Homo sapiens: one gene and its partner. The protein of the gene in region 1 purifies or fractionates together with the protein of each later gene. This does not show direct contact. Each region holds a gene or a part of one and is shown on either strand. Other genes may lie near its edges.

What was found. Proteins that work in one complex are often made in the same cells at the same time.
Region 2: the proteins of MED12L (region 1) and NCAPD2 fractionate together in Homo sapiens (co-fractionation; one large-scale study listed by BioGRID). This does not show direct contact.

The regions. Positions count from the first base shown.
Region 1 is NC_000003.12:151,087,695-151,093,446, reverse strand, and holds part of MED12L (mediator of RNA polymerase II transcription subunit 12-like protein), read right to left. Parts: intron 1-5,752. UniProt on the Homo sapiens protein: May be a component of the Mediator complex, a coactivator involved in the regulated transcription of nearly all RNA polymerase II-dependent genes.
Region 2 is NC_000012.12:6,500,602-6,504,101, reverse strand, and holds part of NCAPD2 (condensin complex subunit 1), read right to left. Parts: intron 1-3,500. UniProt on the Homo sapiens protein: Regulatory subunit of the condensin complex, a complex required for conversion of interphase chromatin into mitotic-like condense chromosomes.

The DNA.
Region 1 (5,752 bases):
ACTAAAGCAAAGGTTTTCAAGCTTGACATGTTTCGGAATCACCTAGAAAGCTTGTTTAAAATGCAAATTTCTGAGCTTCCTTCCCAGAATTCTGACTCAGCATTTCTGGGGTAGAGGTGGGCCACTTTATCTGCATTTTTTAAGAGACAGGGTACCACTCTATAGCCCAAGCTGGAGTGCAATGGCAAGATCACAGCTCACTGCAGCCTTGACCTCCTGGGCTCAAGTGATCCTCCTACCTTGACCTCCCTAGTAGCTGGGACCGCAGGTGTGCACCACCAAACCTGGCTTTCTGAATTTTTTGTAGAGATGGGTGTCTCACTATGTTGCCCAGGCTGGCCTCAAATTTCTACTTTCAAGCAATCCTCCAGCCTTGGTCTCCCAAAGTATATATGTCCATTTTTAACAAGCATCTTTCACATTCGGCTGCAGAGGCTGGCAGACCCTGAAAAATGACAACCAGCTGAGTTCCTCCTCCCTGGCCATAGAGTTTGGGTAGCAAACTGTGAGAAGCTGAAAACAGCAGGACCTCCCAACCAGTGCTTCCTACACTGCTCCTCTCCTAAGAGTCACCTGAGGCATGAGTTAAGCACAAACATCAGTTCCTCCCTGAACACTGGGATTCTGGGAGGTCTGCAGCAGCGCCTGGGGCCAGCCAATTAGTCTCAGGTGAGGAGCTTTCTGAAATGAAGTATCTCCCTTGCCTCCTCTTTTGGTCCCCCAAGTCAACTGGTCAACCTGTCCTTTCTTCCCAGAAAACTTTATCAACATCCTCCCCTTTTGAAGAAACAAACTTTCCACCTCCCTCACTCCACTTCCCCAGCTGCCTCTAAAACAGGCATTCATGCCTTTAAGAGTTTTCGATGCTAACAAGAAAACTAACAGGAGTTACCAAAATAAACCAAGCATTGAGATAGTTAAATGTTATAAATACTCACAATTGCTCATTAATAGTTCTTTCTGCATTTATTAATTTCTTCATGAAGTATTTACTGAGCACCTAGTCTACTCCCAGGCACTAGGCCGTTCACAGATGTGAACACCACAGACAAGCCTCTGCTCTCATGCAGCTTACATTCCAGCTGGAAGGCAGGCCATGGAGAGAATAGCATCCTAATAATTGCATTTCAGTGACAAGCGCTACAAAACATATTAACTCAGGGAAATGAACTGGCAAGGATGAGGGAAGACAGGCTGCAAGGAAGGCCTCCCTGTGGGGGAGTTTCCGAGCTAAGAACCAAATGACAGGAAACAAAACTGCTGCAGGGAGCAAGGGACAGGAACCTATACACAAAGAAGCTAGGCCTGTTGGAAGAAGAGAGAGGCAGCCTGTGGTCCCACCACACAGCAAGTTGGAAGGGGTGACTCAAAGCCCAGATCTTGAAAGGCAGGATCTTGTGGCTGTTATGGTTAAGTACAACAGGAGACCCCCAGCATCCTTTAATAAGGGATCAGCTAATAGTGGCTGACCTGTGTTGAGTGCTGCCTGTGTGACAGGCACGATTCTACACACTTTGCATACATTAGCTCATTTTCTCTTCCCAGCAACTCTATGAAGTTGGAAGAAATACAAACCTCATTCCATGGTTGAGGAAGCTGAGTCAAACAGGCAGTAAACAGAGTAGCCAGAACTCAAAGCCAGGCTGTTTGGCTGCAGGCAATGACTGCAGAGGTGAACAAGGGCCAGACTGGTAGGGCCTTGAAGGCCAAGGTAAAGGGTTTGCATTTTATTTCAAGTGTAATGGAAAAAGCCACTGGAGGGGGACTGAGACTTCCTGGTCCATTCCCTTAGATCTGAACTAAGAGAGGGCACAAATTCTGGGACAAGAACACCAAATCTTGGCTGGGTTGGCTGTTAAACCAAACTACTGCAACTTCAGCCATACATAGAAGTCTAATCCAGCCCTGCTCGTATCAAGCAGAATGCTCTAGCCCCTGCAGAACTGGATGTCTTCCCTTTAGGTGAGGGTTCTCGAAGTGGGGCCCTAGACCAGCACCATCAGATTACCTGGGATCTTGTCACCAGTGCAATTTCTGAGGCCTGACCTCAGACCTACTGAATCTTAGAGACCCAGCAATCTGTTTCAACCAGCCTTCAGGGTAATCTGAATGTCCTCTGAAGTTGAAGAACCACCACTCTGGGATATCCGCATGCAGACACCACCATCACCACCAGCTCTCCTAAGTCATGCTGTGTATATCTTCGGGCAGCCCCTGCACTGCACACCAGGCCATTATTCCCGTAGGTCCCTGCTGGTGGGGCTCTACAGCTCCTGATTCCCGGAAATCTCATTACTGCCCCAACCCATTTTTCTAACAAATTTGATTTTCTGCACATATTTACTCTTCAAATGTTTCGGCCTCTTTTTCTGTTGTTTTTTGTTGTTGTTGTTTTGTTTTGTTTTTGAGATGCAGTCTTGCTCTGTCCCCCAGGCTGGAGTGCAATGGCACAATCTCGGCTCACTGCAACCTCCGCCTCCTGGGTTCAAGAGATTCTCCTGCCTCAGCCTCCCAAGTAGCTGGGATTACAGGCGCCTACCACCATGCCCAGCTAATTTTTGTATTTTTTAGTAGAGACGGGGTTTCACCATGTTGTTAAGGCTGGTCTCGAACTCCTGACCTCAGGTGATCCACCCGCCTCGGCCTCCCAAAGTGATGGGATTACAGGCATGAGCCACCACGCCTGGCCCTGTTTCAGTCTCTTTTGTCCCAGAGTAAACCTCCTCTTCCTTCCTACTTCTGGAGCTTAATTTTACTTTCAGGCTTAACCTAGGCTCCAAAGCAGATAGATGCAAAGGATACTTTCAGCTTTAACCTTGACTTTCCCCAACAGCCCTCAGTCACCGGATTTCCCTTTTTAATTTATTCATCCCAAGTTTATTCATGTTCCAATAAATATTTGTGCCCTCAGCCTTCTAGGAACTAATTGTGCAGGTGCCAGGTACTTCTGCCATACCAAAACAGACCTCATCCATGCCCTCATGAAACTGACCTATTAGGGGGAGATGGCAAGATGCAAATAAGTATATAATTGTAAATGATATATCAGAAAAGCCTGAGACTTGAATGATGAAGGGGCAGGCATGACAGTAGTTCATGACAGCAAACATATAGGGGCTGAATCTATGACAGATTCTGTTCTAAGTGCTTTTTACATATACTATCTAGGTAATCTTCCAACAGCCCTATGAGTTAAGTAGTATTATCACTCTCACTCTATATGGAAGGAAAATGAAGTATAGGGAGAATAAGGGGCACATAAACAGGACAGCCAGGGTCCCAACCCAAGCAGACTGGCACCAGAGCCTACCTTTCTAACCACAGGCTAAGGTGAGAAGAGCTGAGTGGAATGCTAAGTGGGAGGGGGTGGCTAGACAGGTGTCCAGGCAGAAAGACCAGAACAGAATATGCAGGAGCCCTGGGGAAGAGAAGTCACCCTGAAGCCAGAAGGGAGACCAAGCATACTGGTGAAACTGGAGAGCATCTGGTGGATTGGAAATATATTTTGGAACTGAACAGGATGTGCGCATGGATGTAGAGACGCTGATGGATGAATGGGGTATAAGCAAGGAGGAGGTCTCAAGGATGACTGCCAGTTTTCTGATTCCCTGCTTTAAAGGCTTGAGCACAGTCTGTTTGTAGGAAGCAAAGTATTATAACACAATATATAATGAAGTCCTACAGGATGCTGATGCACAGCAAGCTCTCAAAAAAATATAACCAATCCATCAGGCAGGTTAAAGCTTCCATATTCTCCCCCCCGCCCCACCCCCATACTTCTCCACATGGGTCTTCGTTCATGGGTTCCACCCTACCTTCTGGGAGCCCTTTTCTGAAATATATTACCACTGGTTAACAACAACAATAAAAATTACATTTATGGTGACAAGAATAACTTCTACCAGGAGGAGGGCTTTTCTCACACAAATGTTGGTTTGAAATTTTTTCTGAAGTGCACAAACTAATTTACAAATGAGAGGCTATGCAACTTGCCCAAGGCCACACAATTGCAAAAAAAAAAAAAAAGCTAAATCCAGGTTGGCCCAACTTGGAAGCCCACACTTCCTCCATTAAATCAGCATTTTCCACCACAGCTATCTCTAATGGAACACAACTGTTGTTTTCGATACACAGATGAACTTTTAAAGTGTTAATAGTAATGGTCTCATTTTATTATGTATAATCATATACGTGTGTGCATGTAATATCAAATAGATTAAAAATAGTATGTAAACATGATTTGATATAAATTTTATATATACATATATTTCAATAAATCCATGACTCCACGTGTAGTACTGCCCAGGAAACACAAAGTTTCTTAAAAAATTAGTTTAAAGAAAACTTCAGAATAAAAGTACAGGTGGTACAGGGGTAGGGTAGAAATCTTGAGGGAGGTAGGACATAAATAACTAAAGCTTAGGAAACTCTACTCACCAACCACCCAAGAACAGCCAAGCACCTGTTCCATATTGTACCCAAATTTGGCTACAGCCACACATAACTCTGTCTGCTTGGGAGAGTTAAAACATTGGCTGCCTTGGGGGAAAGGGGATAACATCAGAAGATAATTTAGCATAAATCATCCTCAAAGCAGTATTAGTTTTGACATAAATACTGGTTTGGTGGTACAACTCCTCTGCTTATTCACCTATACACCTTGGTTAAACGAGTCAAGCTTTCCCAGGCCTGTTTCACTTAGTCAAAAGGAAGTTATAGAAAGTAGTCCCTAAGGTCGCTTCCAGTTTTAGAACTCCATAAAATGTTGTGAGACCCTGAAATCCAAAATTACTCTTTCCAGAATCAGAGGCCCCAGTCGTGAAATGAGCATTGGCCTGAAGAACAAATGCTAAATAAGCCCACACAGCACCCCAAGCCATCATGCCATCAATTATGCTGCCCTCTGGAAAGACAGAGTAAGACATTAATTACAAGATGATAAAGTTCAACCAACAAAATATCCCTGTCCCTATCAAAACTTTAAGAATTTCCTCCCAATAATTTTTAAGCTATTAACTGTACACTTGATCCTCAGCTTCTCTATTATTTCCAGTCCTTAACCATTAACTTCATTCTAAGTTGGGGTAGCAGGGTGGGGTAACGGGTAGGAAAAAAAATCTGGGAAATCTTCTCAAACCTCTACCATCCTGTAAAGCTGGTGCTGGAAACCACCTGTAAAACCTTCCCAGCTTTCATCTGCGTGACTCCACTGATGCTAGAGCATATTTAGTGTGCTAAACCTCTAAAAGGAGTTGCTGTTCCTTACTTCTCAGACACTTTATAAGCAAGACAGTTTAGCCAGAACAAGCACTTACTCTCCTAATGAAAGATACACTTATCAAAAGGAAAGTCTTAAGGACCCCTCCTTGCCTGGTTTACAAGGCCCTTTCTGTGCTATCAGTGGGCCCACAAACTTTTAATGGAGGGTTTTTAGATTCTCAGAAAGGTAAGTTTTGAAATATGGTCAGTTCGTGTTTAGCTGAACAGAAGATGGGTGGACTGCAGCTGGCAAACTCAGAAAGCACTGCTGGGTAGCAGGTGATCAAAAAAAAAACAAAAAAAAGGCAAGTCCCTGGGCAAATGGTGTAGCCAAAGGTGATCATTATAACTAGAGACTTGTTACATAATTACTTGTTAACTCCTGACAAACAGATACACAGCTACAAAATGCCATGGTTACCCTAGCCATTGAAGCTAATGTAGCTGGTGCAAGAGTCAAGGTGTCTCCAATTAATCTCATTCAAAGAAATAA
Region 2 (3,500 bases), on another chromosome or scaffold:
GTGCCCCTCATAATTCATGTGTTGGAAATATAATCCCCAACATGACAGTGTTGGAAGGTGGAGTCTAATGGGAGGTGTTTAGGTTATGAGGGCTCCACCCTCACAAATATATATACATATTTTTGAGACGGAGTCTCGCTCTGTCGCCCAGGCTGGAGTGCAGTGGCATGATGTTAGCTCACTGCAACCTCTGCCTCCTGGGTTCAAGCAATTCAGTGCCTCAGCCTCCCGAGTAGCTGGGATTACAGGTGCCTGCCACCACACCTAGCTAATTTTTCTATTTTTTAGTAGAGACGGGGTTTCACCATCTTTTTTAAAAAAAAAAAAAAAATAGATGGAGTCTCGCTCTGTCACCCAGGCTGAAGTGCAGTGGCACGATCTCGGCTCACTACAACCTCCGGCTCCCAGGTTCAAGTGATTCTCCCGCCTCAGCCTCCTGAGTAGCTGGGATTACAGGCACGCGTCACCACACCCGGCTAATTTTTTGTATTTTTAGTAGAGACGGGGTTTCACCATATTGGCCAGGCTGGTCTCGAACTCCTGACCTTGTGATCTGCCCGCCTCGGCCTCCCAAAGTGCTGGGATTACAGGTGTGAGCCACCGTGCCCAACCCCTCACCGATATATTCATACTATTATAAAAAGGGCTCTGGGGAGTGGGTTCACTTGTGCCCTTCTGCCTTCTGCCCTGTGACAATGCAGCAAGAAGGCCCTTGCCAGTTACTGGTGCATTGATTTGGGACTTCCCAGTCTCCAGAAAAAAATGTGAGCCAATAAATTTCTTTCATTATAAATATCCAGTCTCAGGCATTCAGTTATAACAGCATATTTTTCTCAGTCCATTTTCTATACATCGTATTTCCATTGTTGAGCTTGTATCACATATTCACTTCTCTGTCATGCTTTTTAAAATTTAGCATTACAGTAAGTGTATTAGAAACCTTTGTAGGCCAGACGTGGTGGCTCACGCCTGTAATCCCAACACTTTGTAGGCTGAGGCAGGTGGATCATCAGGTCAGGAGTTCGAGACCAGCCTGACCAACATGGTGAAACCCCGTCTCTAATAAAAATACAAAAAAAAAAAAAAAAAAAAAGCCAGGTGTGGTGGCATGCGCCTGTAATCCCAGCTGCTCAGGAGGCTGAGGCAGGAGAATCGCTTGAACTGAGGAGGTTGCAGTGAGCCGAGATAGTGCCACTGTATTCCAGCCTGGGTGACAGAGTGAGACTCCGTCTCAAAAAAAAAGCAACAACAACAACAACAACAAAAACACCTTTGTAAACAATTTTTTTTGAGACAGGGTTTGTTGTGTTGCGCAGGCCGAAGTGCAGTGCAGGATCATAGCTTACTGCAGCCTCAAACTTCTGGGTTCAAGCGATCCTCCTGCCCCAGCCTTCTGAGTAGCTGGGACTACAGGCAGTGCCACCACACTCGGCCTTATATCTATCTTAATTTACTATTCCCCTATTGTTAGATACTGTGATACTTGTAACTTATTCCACTAATTAACAACAACAACAACACATACTCCCCTGGCAAATCTAGGTTAAACCAACTTTCTGGTTACTCCATTCATGTGACCACACAAATAAAAATGGCCTGAGAAAAACACAGAAACAAGCTGACTAGTCTTACGTTAAACTCATGACTACTAACCTGAAGTGGGCATTCGTACTCCCAAGTCTATTCGTTTTCTTCTAGGCAATTATTTCACACCTATCCTCTGCTCATAACACCATGACCTTCTTCCCAAACTCACTCTCAGTTAAAGGCTTTCCCTTCCTATTGAGGAAACAGAAGCAGACAGAAGAGAACTTTCAACTGCCCCAAGCTCTATATTTACCTGCACTAGTTGCATCTATGCCCATACATACACTCTGCCTTTTTTTTTTGCTACTGTGGATAAACTGTCCATGTTCTGATAAAGCCATCTCCTCCCCGTGTACCAGATCACGTACTCTCTTACCTACTAAAGGCACTGCTCCAACAACTGTTCCCTCTTCCTTCTGCAGCATCAGCTTTTCCCTCTCTGATCATTCCTACTCAATATAGACACACATAATGCTGCCCATCTTAAAAGAAATACATTATGTAAATTCATCATCTCTAATCTCTGTCATTCCATTTTCTTAAAAACCTATTCCTAGCAGGCTTTTGCCCCCACCATCTCCTGAAACAGCTTTGTCAAGGTTACCAGTGACTATGACATCAATAAATCCAGTAGTTAATCTGCAGTTGACCTCTCTTTTGTTTTTGAAACACTCTCTTTATTTAGCGTCCATTTAGCTCCTTCATTCGCTTTCTGCCCCAATGACTGCTTCTTAATTTCTTCTACTGGTTCTTCTTCATCCTCCTAGCCTCTAAATGCTGGACTGTCTCAGGTCTTGGTCTTCAAACTGCTGCTCTTCTCCATCTACACTCACTGCAATCTCATGGCTTTAAGTGCTGTCTACACGCTGAGTATTAAATCCTAAATGTGTATCTTTAGCTGACAACCTCTCCCTTGAACTCTGCACTCACATAACCAACAATCTAAACCTCTCCCTCCCATATGCTACCCCATCTCAGTAAATGGCAACTTCATTCTTCTAGTTGCTCAAGTCAAAAAGCCTTGTAAGGCCGGGTGTGGTGGCCCACGCCTGTAATCCCAACATTTTGGGAGGCCGAGGCAGGCAGATCACTTGAGGCCAGAAGTTCAAGACCAGACTGGACAACACGGCAAAACCGCATCTCTACTAAAAATACAAAAATTAGCCAGGTGTCGTGACCCTGGGAGGCGGAGCTTGCAGTGAACCGAGATGGTGCCACTGCACTCCAGCCTGGGCGAGAGAGCGAGACTCTGCCTAAAAAAAAAAAAAAAAAAAAAAAAAAAAAAAATTAGCCAGGCGTGGTGGTGCACACCTGTAATCCTAGATACTCAGGTGGCTGAGGCATGAGAATTGCTTGAACCTGGGAGGCAGAGGTTGCAGCGAGCCAAGATCACGCCACTGCACGCCAACCTGGGTGACAGAGCCAACAGAGCAAGACTGTCAAAAAAAAAAAAAAAAAGCCTTGTAATCATTCTCATCTCAGATTCCTTTACTAACCCTATAATCCAATCCAATCCATCAGCATTCCTGTAAAAGCTCTACTTTGAAAATATATCCTGAGTCGTTTTATCACCACTTCCCCTGCTATCCCTCCAGTCCAATCTACTTGGTATTACTGTATTAGCCACTTAACTAGTATCCCTGCTTCTCTCCTTGCCTCTTATAGTCTCTGCTCAACACAGTCGCCAGTGAATCTTTTAAAATGTCAGACCATGTCACTCCCATGCTCAAAACCCAATGGCTTTCAAGTTCATTCACACTGAAGTTCAAGTTTTTGCCATGATCTACGAGGCTCTAGAGATCAGTGCTTCTCAAGCTTATAATTGCATCCAAATTGCCTGGGGGAATCTTCTTAAAATACAGATTTCCTGATTCAGCAGCTTTGACATCCTGGGCCTTGACATCCTGCATTTC